Homo sapiens: one gene and its partner. The protein of the gene in region 1 interacts with the protein of each later gene in a biochemical or structural test. Each region holds a gene or a part of one and is shown in the gene's direction. Other genes may lie near its edges. The genes, in order: WNK4 and SGK1.

Region 1 (3,800 bases):
AGGGACAGCCAAGACAAGACCCTCCATAGCCATGGATATGGGTCAGGCAGGGCTGGAGAGATGTGGATGGAGGAGTAGTCAGTACAGAGTTGAGAGTGAAGGGAGATGAGCCGGCAAAGCCAGAGACACAGAGGGTTGCAGAGTGTGTCTCAGCGCATACCACCAGTTCTGGAGTGGGAAGCGGGAGGGTAGGTCATCGAAGGACACAGAGACAAAGCCAGAGACGTAGGAGGATGTTAGTCAAAACTGAGTGAGGAGAGAGTTTCAAGGAGGTGGCATAGGATGAATCCTCAGGCAAGACCACACTGGCTTTTGTTAGGAGATCTTTGTGGGAGACCAGTTTCAGTGGAGTGGGGGTGGTGGATGCCAGCCCATGGGGTGAAGGAGGGAAAGGAATGGGAGAAACACCAGGCATCAGGAGCCCTCTCTAAAGCATCTCCTCCATCATGTCATTCACCTTGTGTCCAGGACAAAGACACAATATCACCTGGCACACAAGGCTCATCACCTTCCGTCAAACCACTTGACTCTTTCAGAGTCTTCCATCCAGCCACACTGGTTTCAAAATGGGCCTCTGAAAAGGCTGGGTGCCTTCCTGCCTCTGCCTCCACCTCCTTAAGGGTCTCTCACTCGTAGAGCCTTCTGTATTGGGCTTTCAAGTCCCCTCTGATCCTGCACAGCCAAAGTGACCCCACCCCATGCACCCAGAGTCCTTTGCCCTCTTTTCTCTCCTTACCCAGTCCACCCTCCACTCCTCTGCAGCAGAATTCTCCTGAGACTTGGATCTGATCTCTTGATATTCACCCGAAATTATTTAGTGGCTACTTGTGGTTGTAGAGTAAGGTCCAAATTCCAAAGCCTTTAAAATTCACAGCACATTCAGCTACACTTGAGTCCTCACTATTTTAAGAATAGGCTGTGCCGGGCATGGTGGCTCACGCCTGTAATCCCAGCACTTTGGGAGGCCGAGGCAGGCAGATGACCTGAGGTCGGGAGTTCAAGACCAGCCTGACCAACATGGAGAAACCCCGTCTCTACTAAAAAATACAAAATTAGCTGGGCGTGGTGGCGCATGCCTGTAATCCCAGCTACTTGGGAGGCTGAGGCAGGAGAATCACTTGAACCCAGGAGGTGGAGGTTGCGGTGAGCCACGGTCATACCATTGCACTCCAGCCTGGGCAACAAGAGCGAAACTCTGTCTCAAAAAAAAAAAAAGAAGAAAGAAAGAAAGATTGAATAGGCCGGGCGCAGTGGCTCACACTTGTAATCCCAGCACTTTTGGGAGGCTGAGGCAGGTAGATCACTTGAGGTCAGGAGTTCGAGACCAGCCTGGCCAACATGAAGCCCTGTCTCTACTAAAAATATAAAAATTAGCTGGGCATGGTGCCAGGCAGTCCCAGCTACTCAAGAGGCTGATGCAGGAGAATCTCTTGAACCCAGAAGGTGAGGTTGCAGTGAGCCAAGATTGTGCCACTGCACTCCAGCCTGGGTGATAGAGCAAGGCTCAGTCTCAAAAAAAAAAAAAAATAATAATGTACCATGCCTTTCATGCTTCAAAGCTACTACACTGTTCTCTCTGCCTAGACTGCTCTTCTCTTCCTGATGAACAGCCTGGAATAGAGGAAGGGGTCGCTTTCATGTAATACCTAAGTTCAAACTTCAGCTCTGTTATTTACTAATCCAATGAACTTAGGCAAGTTTCTTAACTCTGTAAACTTCAGTTGCATGTAAGTAAAATGCAGATGATAGTATTTGTTTTGCAAAGATGTTCTGATACGACACAGTGTAATGTAGAAGTGTCCACACATGGTAGGTCCTCAATAGAGATTGCTTTTCTCATCTGTCAATGTTCAGCTCCAAAGACTTACTCTGTGAAACTGCTCCAGCTTCCCCCTATCCCCAGGGTGGTATTCTGTCTTTGGAATAGCATTTTAAAAAATTGTGATTAAAAAACCATAAATATAAAATTTACCACCGTAACCATTTTTAAGTGTACAGTTCAGCAATATTAAGTATATTCACATTGCTGTGAAACAGATCTCCAGGGGTTTTCTTACCTTGCAAATCTGAAACTCTGTACCCATTAAACAACTCTGCCTCTCCACACCCCCATCCCCCCAACCCTGGAACAACATTTCTATCTATATCTCACTTGTAAGTGCCTTACGTATTACGGGCTGCCTTGCAGTAAGTTTAATTACGTATTTATGTGTCTCCTCCACTAAGTTTTGGGCTTCGTTAAGCCTAGGACCTTGTTTCATGCTTCCTTGTATTCCCACAGTACCCAGCACAATGCCAGCACATAGTAGGTGCTCAATAAGTATTCATGGATTTGAATGTGACATTTGCCATTTATTGCCTTATTCTGACTTAACCGTGTGGGATGGGTGTATGTGGGCCTGTGTGTTATACTTTATAAACACTATGGGGCAGAAATTGTGTCCAAAACATGGGAGGCAGCAGTGAAGATAACTCAGGCTCTGGCTTTAGGTAGATGTGGGTTTAAATCCTGTGACCTTAGGCAGACGGAACTTAACCTCTTTGAGCATTGGTTATCTTAATTCTACCATAGCAATATTAATGTGGGCCCCAGAAAGTTACTGGTGGTGTTAAATGTGATAATATACGCAAAGCAGCTGGTATATATACGCATCCTATGAATGTTAGCACCTTTCCTTCTAGGCTGTATTTCTCCTTACACCACACAGTGCCTGGAACACAATAGGTATTTACTTGTTTTAGGTTGGTGGTTGGCAGGAGCAGTAGTGTGAAGGGTGGATTTTTTATTTTTATTTTTTTGAGACGGAGTCTCGCTCAGTCGTCCAGGCTGGAGTGCGGTGGTGTGATCTTGGCTCCACCGTTTCCCAGGTTCAAGTGATTCTCCCGTCTTAGCCTCCCAAGTAGCTGGGATTACAGGTGCCCGCCATCATGCCCAGCTAATTTTTGTATTTTAGTAGAGATAGGGTATCACCATGTTGGCCAGGCTGGTCTTAAACTCCTGACTTCAGGTGATCCGCCCGCCTCGGCCTCCCAAAGTGCTAGGATTACAGGCGTGAGCCACCGCGCCCAGCCTGATGTTTTAAGATCAGAAGCAGGGGGAGAGGGATGAGTGAGATAACAAGCTCTCCCTCCCCATCCTGTTGACCCTCGCAAGGTATATAACGAGTTCATTCTGCCTTCGGAGCGAGATGGATTTCTCAGACGGATTCGGGAGATTATCCAGCGAGTGGAGACCCTGTTGAAGAGAGACACTGGCCCCATGGAGGCTGCTGAAGACACCCTAAGCCCCCAGGTCAGACCCCTTGGTGGACACTTCCAGGGGAAATGGACTCTCTGCTCCAGGGTTTATTACTCTCTGCCCTCAGCGGTCCCCTTGGATTTAACTCCTCTTCATCTCTGGGACCCTAAAACAGTGGCGCTTTTTTTTTTTTTTGAGATGGAGTCTCACTCTGTCGCCCAGGCTGGAGTGCAGTGGCACGATCTCGGCTCACTGCAAGCTCCGCCTCCCGGGTTCACGCCATTCTCCTGTCCCAGCCTCCCGAGTAGCTGGGACTACAGGCGCTCGCCACCACACCCGGCTAATTTTTTTTGTATTTTTAGTAGAGACAGGGTTTCACCGTGTTAGCCAGGCTGGTCTCGATCTCCTGACCTCGTGATCCGCCCTCCTCGGCCTCCCAAAGTGCTGGGATTACAGGTGTGAGCCACCGTGCCTGGCCTAAAACAGTGGCTCTTAGCCCATTTGAGAATATGATGAAAGCCATGGACTCTTGTTCTAGAAAACTTGTTCAATACATACTTTT
Region 2 (3,822 bases), on another chromosome or scaffold:
CTCACTGCAACCTCCGCTTCCCAGGTTCAAGCGATTCTCCCAAGCAGCTGAGATTATAGGCGTGTACCACCAGGCCTGGCTAATTTTGGTATTTTTAGTAGAGATGGGGTTTCATCATGTTGGCAGGCTGGTCCAGGAGGATCTTTTAACACCAAGACCAGCCTGGGCAACAGAGTGAAACCCCCCTATCTCTAAAAAGAAAAAAATTCTAACCCCACTGGAAGCAGGAGGAAAAAGAAAAGAAAAAAATAATGTGAAAAAAAAATGCGGAGACAGACTCAGCAAGATGAAATGACCAGCCATGTAATGCATACTCTAGGAAAGAGACTGAACAGCATTGACCAATTCGAATTGTGTTGAGTTTGAAAGATAGACAGGTTGTGAGACCGAGTTCTCCTTTCATGAGCTCCCATCCCACCAGATTTCCCACCAAATCCCCAATAAACATCAAAGGGAGTCAAACACATTTGTTTTTTCTTTCCTTTTGCACATTGCAGGTACGAAGGTGGATCAAGAGCCCAATGGTCAGTGTGGACAAGCATCAGAGTCCCAGCCTGAAGTACACCGGCTCCTCCATGGTGCACATCCCTCCAGGGGAGCCAGACTTCGAGTCTTCCTTGTGTCAAACATGCCTGGGTGAACATGCTTTCCAAAGAGGGGTTCTCCCTCAGGAGAACGAGTCATGTTCATGGGAAACTCAATCTGGGTGTGAAGTAAGTTCATGTTCGCTCTGGATCTATTCTCCTGGAAAAATTCTGGGCCTTTGTTTTTCTTGTATTTCTGCCAGAGTATACCCAAAAAATAATTTTTTAATGCATATTTATAAAGCTTCTGAGGAAGACCTAGAATTGTGGTCTTTGTTAGCTCATTATGTTATTTTTTTAAAGTAGGCTTTATATTTTAGAGCAGCTTTAAGTTCACAGCAACATTGAGCAGAAGGTACAGAGATTACCCATATACGCTTGTCCCCATGCACGTATAACCTACTTTGCCATCAACATTCCCTAGCAGAGTTTTATGTTAGAGTTCACTCTTGGTGTTATACATTCTATGGGTTTGGACTAATGTATAATAACATGCATCCACCATTACAGTATCATACAGTTAAGTTTCACTGCCCTAAAAATCCTCTGCCCTCCACTATTCATCCCCTCCTTACCCTGACCCCTAGCAACCACTGATCTTTTTACTGTCTCCATAGATTTGCCTTTTCCAGAATGTCATCTAGCTGAATCATGCAGTATGTTGTATTAATGTTTTACGTGGGTCCAAGACTGATACAGCAATGTGTTGGTAAACTGGCAATTCCTCAGAAGTGGTTTGATCACACAGGAGATCAAGTCTTAGATGATACAACGATTGTAATAGTCATCTACATGTTCGTAGCTTCCATTGAAATATTTAGTTCAACACGATTTGATCCATTTACAGAGCACTATGTATACTTTTCATTATTTTTCTCAAGCTCATATATACTCACATTTTTACTAAGACTTATTTTCCCTGCTACTCCAAGAGTTGTTTTTTAAAAATTTTGTTAATCCAAGAAAACCAGATAACTGATTCATCTTGCAGTTTCTAAGATTTCAAAAATTTAAGATTATATTTTTAACTTATAACTTAATTAGGCCCATATTTATTTTGATTTTTAAAACCATTATATAAAATGCTTATATTATTTTTACCATCATACTGACATAAAAATACAATATTTAGAAGACAGAACATGTTATTACAAAGTACAGTTAATTGTAAGTGATCTTCCAAGTCAGTGCATCATAGAATGATAAACGTTAATAACCGCTCACCTTTTTTATTTTTAGCAAGGTAACCATTTTCCAGAGATAAAATAATCATTTAGCTGCTAAAAGACTGAAGACATTAAATCTGAGTTCCTTTTCACTCTGAGTTATCACGCAATGTCGCTGAATCTGTTTCATAATTTGTCTACTTTCTTTCTTTCTTTTTTTTTTTTTTTTGAGTTTCACTCTTGTTGCCCAGACTGGAGTGCAATGGCACGATCTCGGCTCACTGCAACCTCCGCTTCCTGAGTTCAAGTAATTCTTCTGCCTCAGTCTCCCGAGTAGCTGGGATTACAGGCACCCAACACCACGCCTGGCTAATTTTTGTATTTTTAATAGAAACAGGGTTTCTCTATGTTGGTCAGGCTGGTGTCAAACTCCCAACCTCAGGTAATCCACCTGCGTCGGCTTTCCAAATTGCTGGGATTACAGGCATGAGCCACTACGCCGGCCCTTTTTTTGGGGGGGGTGGGGGTCGGGGACAGGGAGACAGGGGGACAGAGTCTTGCTCTGTAACCCTGACTTGAGTGCAGTAGTGCAATCATAACTCACTGTTACCTCAAACTCCTAGGTTCAAGTGATCCTCCCACCTCAACCCTCCCAAGTAAATAAGACCACAGGCATACGCCAACAAACCTGGCTAATTAAAAAAAAAAAATTTTTTTTGTAGAAACAGGGTGTTGTCATACTGACCAGGCTGGTCTTGAACTCCTGGCTTCAAGTGATCCTCCCAAAATGCTGGGATTATAGGTATGAGGCACAATGCCCAGCCTACTTGTCTACTTTCTACGGTTATTGGAAAAATCAAATGAGATTGATATGAAATGTTTCATAATCTATAGAATGCCATGCAAATATAAATCATTATTGCTCATGTTTGCTGATTTACATATTAGCTAAGCCTGTGACTCTGTAACACTATATTAGACTTCCATAACTGGGTTAGCACTTTGCTGATCCATGAACATTTGTCATGGTGCATTTGCTTTTTAGCCAGATGTTGGTTCAACTCTAGGTTTGTCATGAAAAACAATAAAGACGCTAAATGCAAGAGCATCTATTTATCGCTCCTGATGCAAGGGATAGAGTCAACTTTTTATCTAAACGGCCAGATAGTAAATATTTTAGCCTTTGCCTAAAATACAGTCTCTAACTTCTATTTAGCTCTGCCCTTCTAGGGAAAGCAGCCATAGATAATATGTAAATGAATGGACACAGCTCTCCCAGGTTGGAGTGCAGTGACGAGATCTCAGCTCACTGCAACCTCCACCTCCCAGGTTCAAGCAATTCTCCTGCCTCAGCCTCCTGAGTAGCCGGGATTACAGGCATCTGACACCACACCCGGGTAATTTTTTTTTTTTTTTTTAGTAGAGATGGGGTTTCACCATGTTGGCCAGGCTGGTCTTGAACTCCGGACCTCAAGTGATCTGCCTGCCTCAGCCTCCCAAAATGCTGGTATTACAGGCCTGAGCCACTGCGCCCAGCCTGAGTTTGCCAATTTCTTAGACTCTAAAGAACTATTTATGACTTAGAAGCAGAGAGAGGGTTCTACATATCCTATACAGAGCACACATGCCTAGTGCTAAATGTTTACTTGAGGGCCTACTCTATGTCCCATTTGATAGGAGCTGGGTTTAAATCAATGCAACAGTGAAATTCCACACAAAAGGAAACAATAAACAAAGCTGAAAGGAATTTAAAGCAACATTGTGATTTACCCTTTTCCTTTATCTTAGATAGCAGGTAAATCATTCTCCAATTTGCAATCGATTACCTGGTTCCCAGACTTTGCTGGCTTTTTCCTAAGGTTATCACAAATCAAAATGACACATACTTTATTTTATTACTTTTTTTTTGAGACAAGGTTTTGCTCTACTGCCCAGGCTAGAGTGTAGTGGTGCAATCATGGCTCACTGCAGCCTCGACCTCCAGGGCTCAAGCAGTGGTCCCACCTCAGCCTCCCAAGTAGCTGGGACTACACGCCCCATGCACCACTATGCCCAGCTAATTTTATTTTATT

What was found.
Region 2: of the proteins of WNK4 (region 1) and SGK1, one has a biochemical effect on the other in vitro, tested with the Homo sapiens proteins (one study listed by BioGRID).

The regions. Positions count from the first base shown.
Region 1 is NC_000017.11:42,790,438-42,794,237, forward strand, and holds part of WNK4 (serine/threonine-protein kinase WNK4), read left to right. Parts: intron 1-3,154; coding exon 3,155-3,292; intron 3,293-3,800. UniProt on the Homo sapiens protein: Serine/threonine-protein kinase component of the WNK4-SPAK/OSR1 kinase cascade, which acts as a key regulator of ion transport in the distal nephron and blood pressure.
Region 2 is NC_000006.12:134,258,824-134,262,645, reverse strand, and holds part of SGK1 (serine/threonine-protein kinase Sgk1), read left to right. Parts: intron 1-497; coding exon 498-713; intron 714-3,822. UniProt on the Homo sapiens protein: Serine/threonine-protein kinase which is involved in the regulation of a wide variety of ion channels, membrane transporters, cellular enzymes, transcription factors, neuronal excitability, cell growth, proliferation, survival, migration and apoptosis.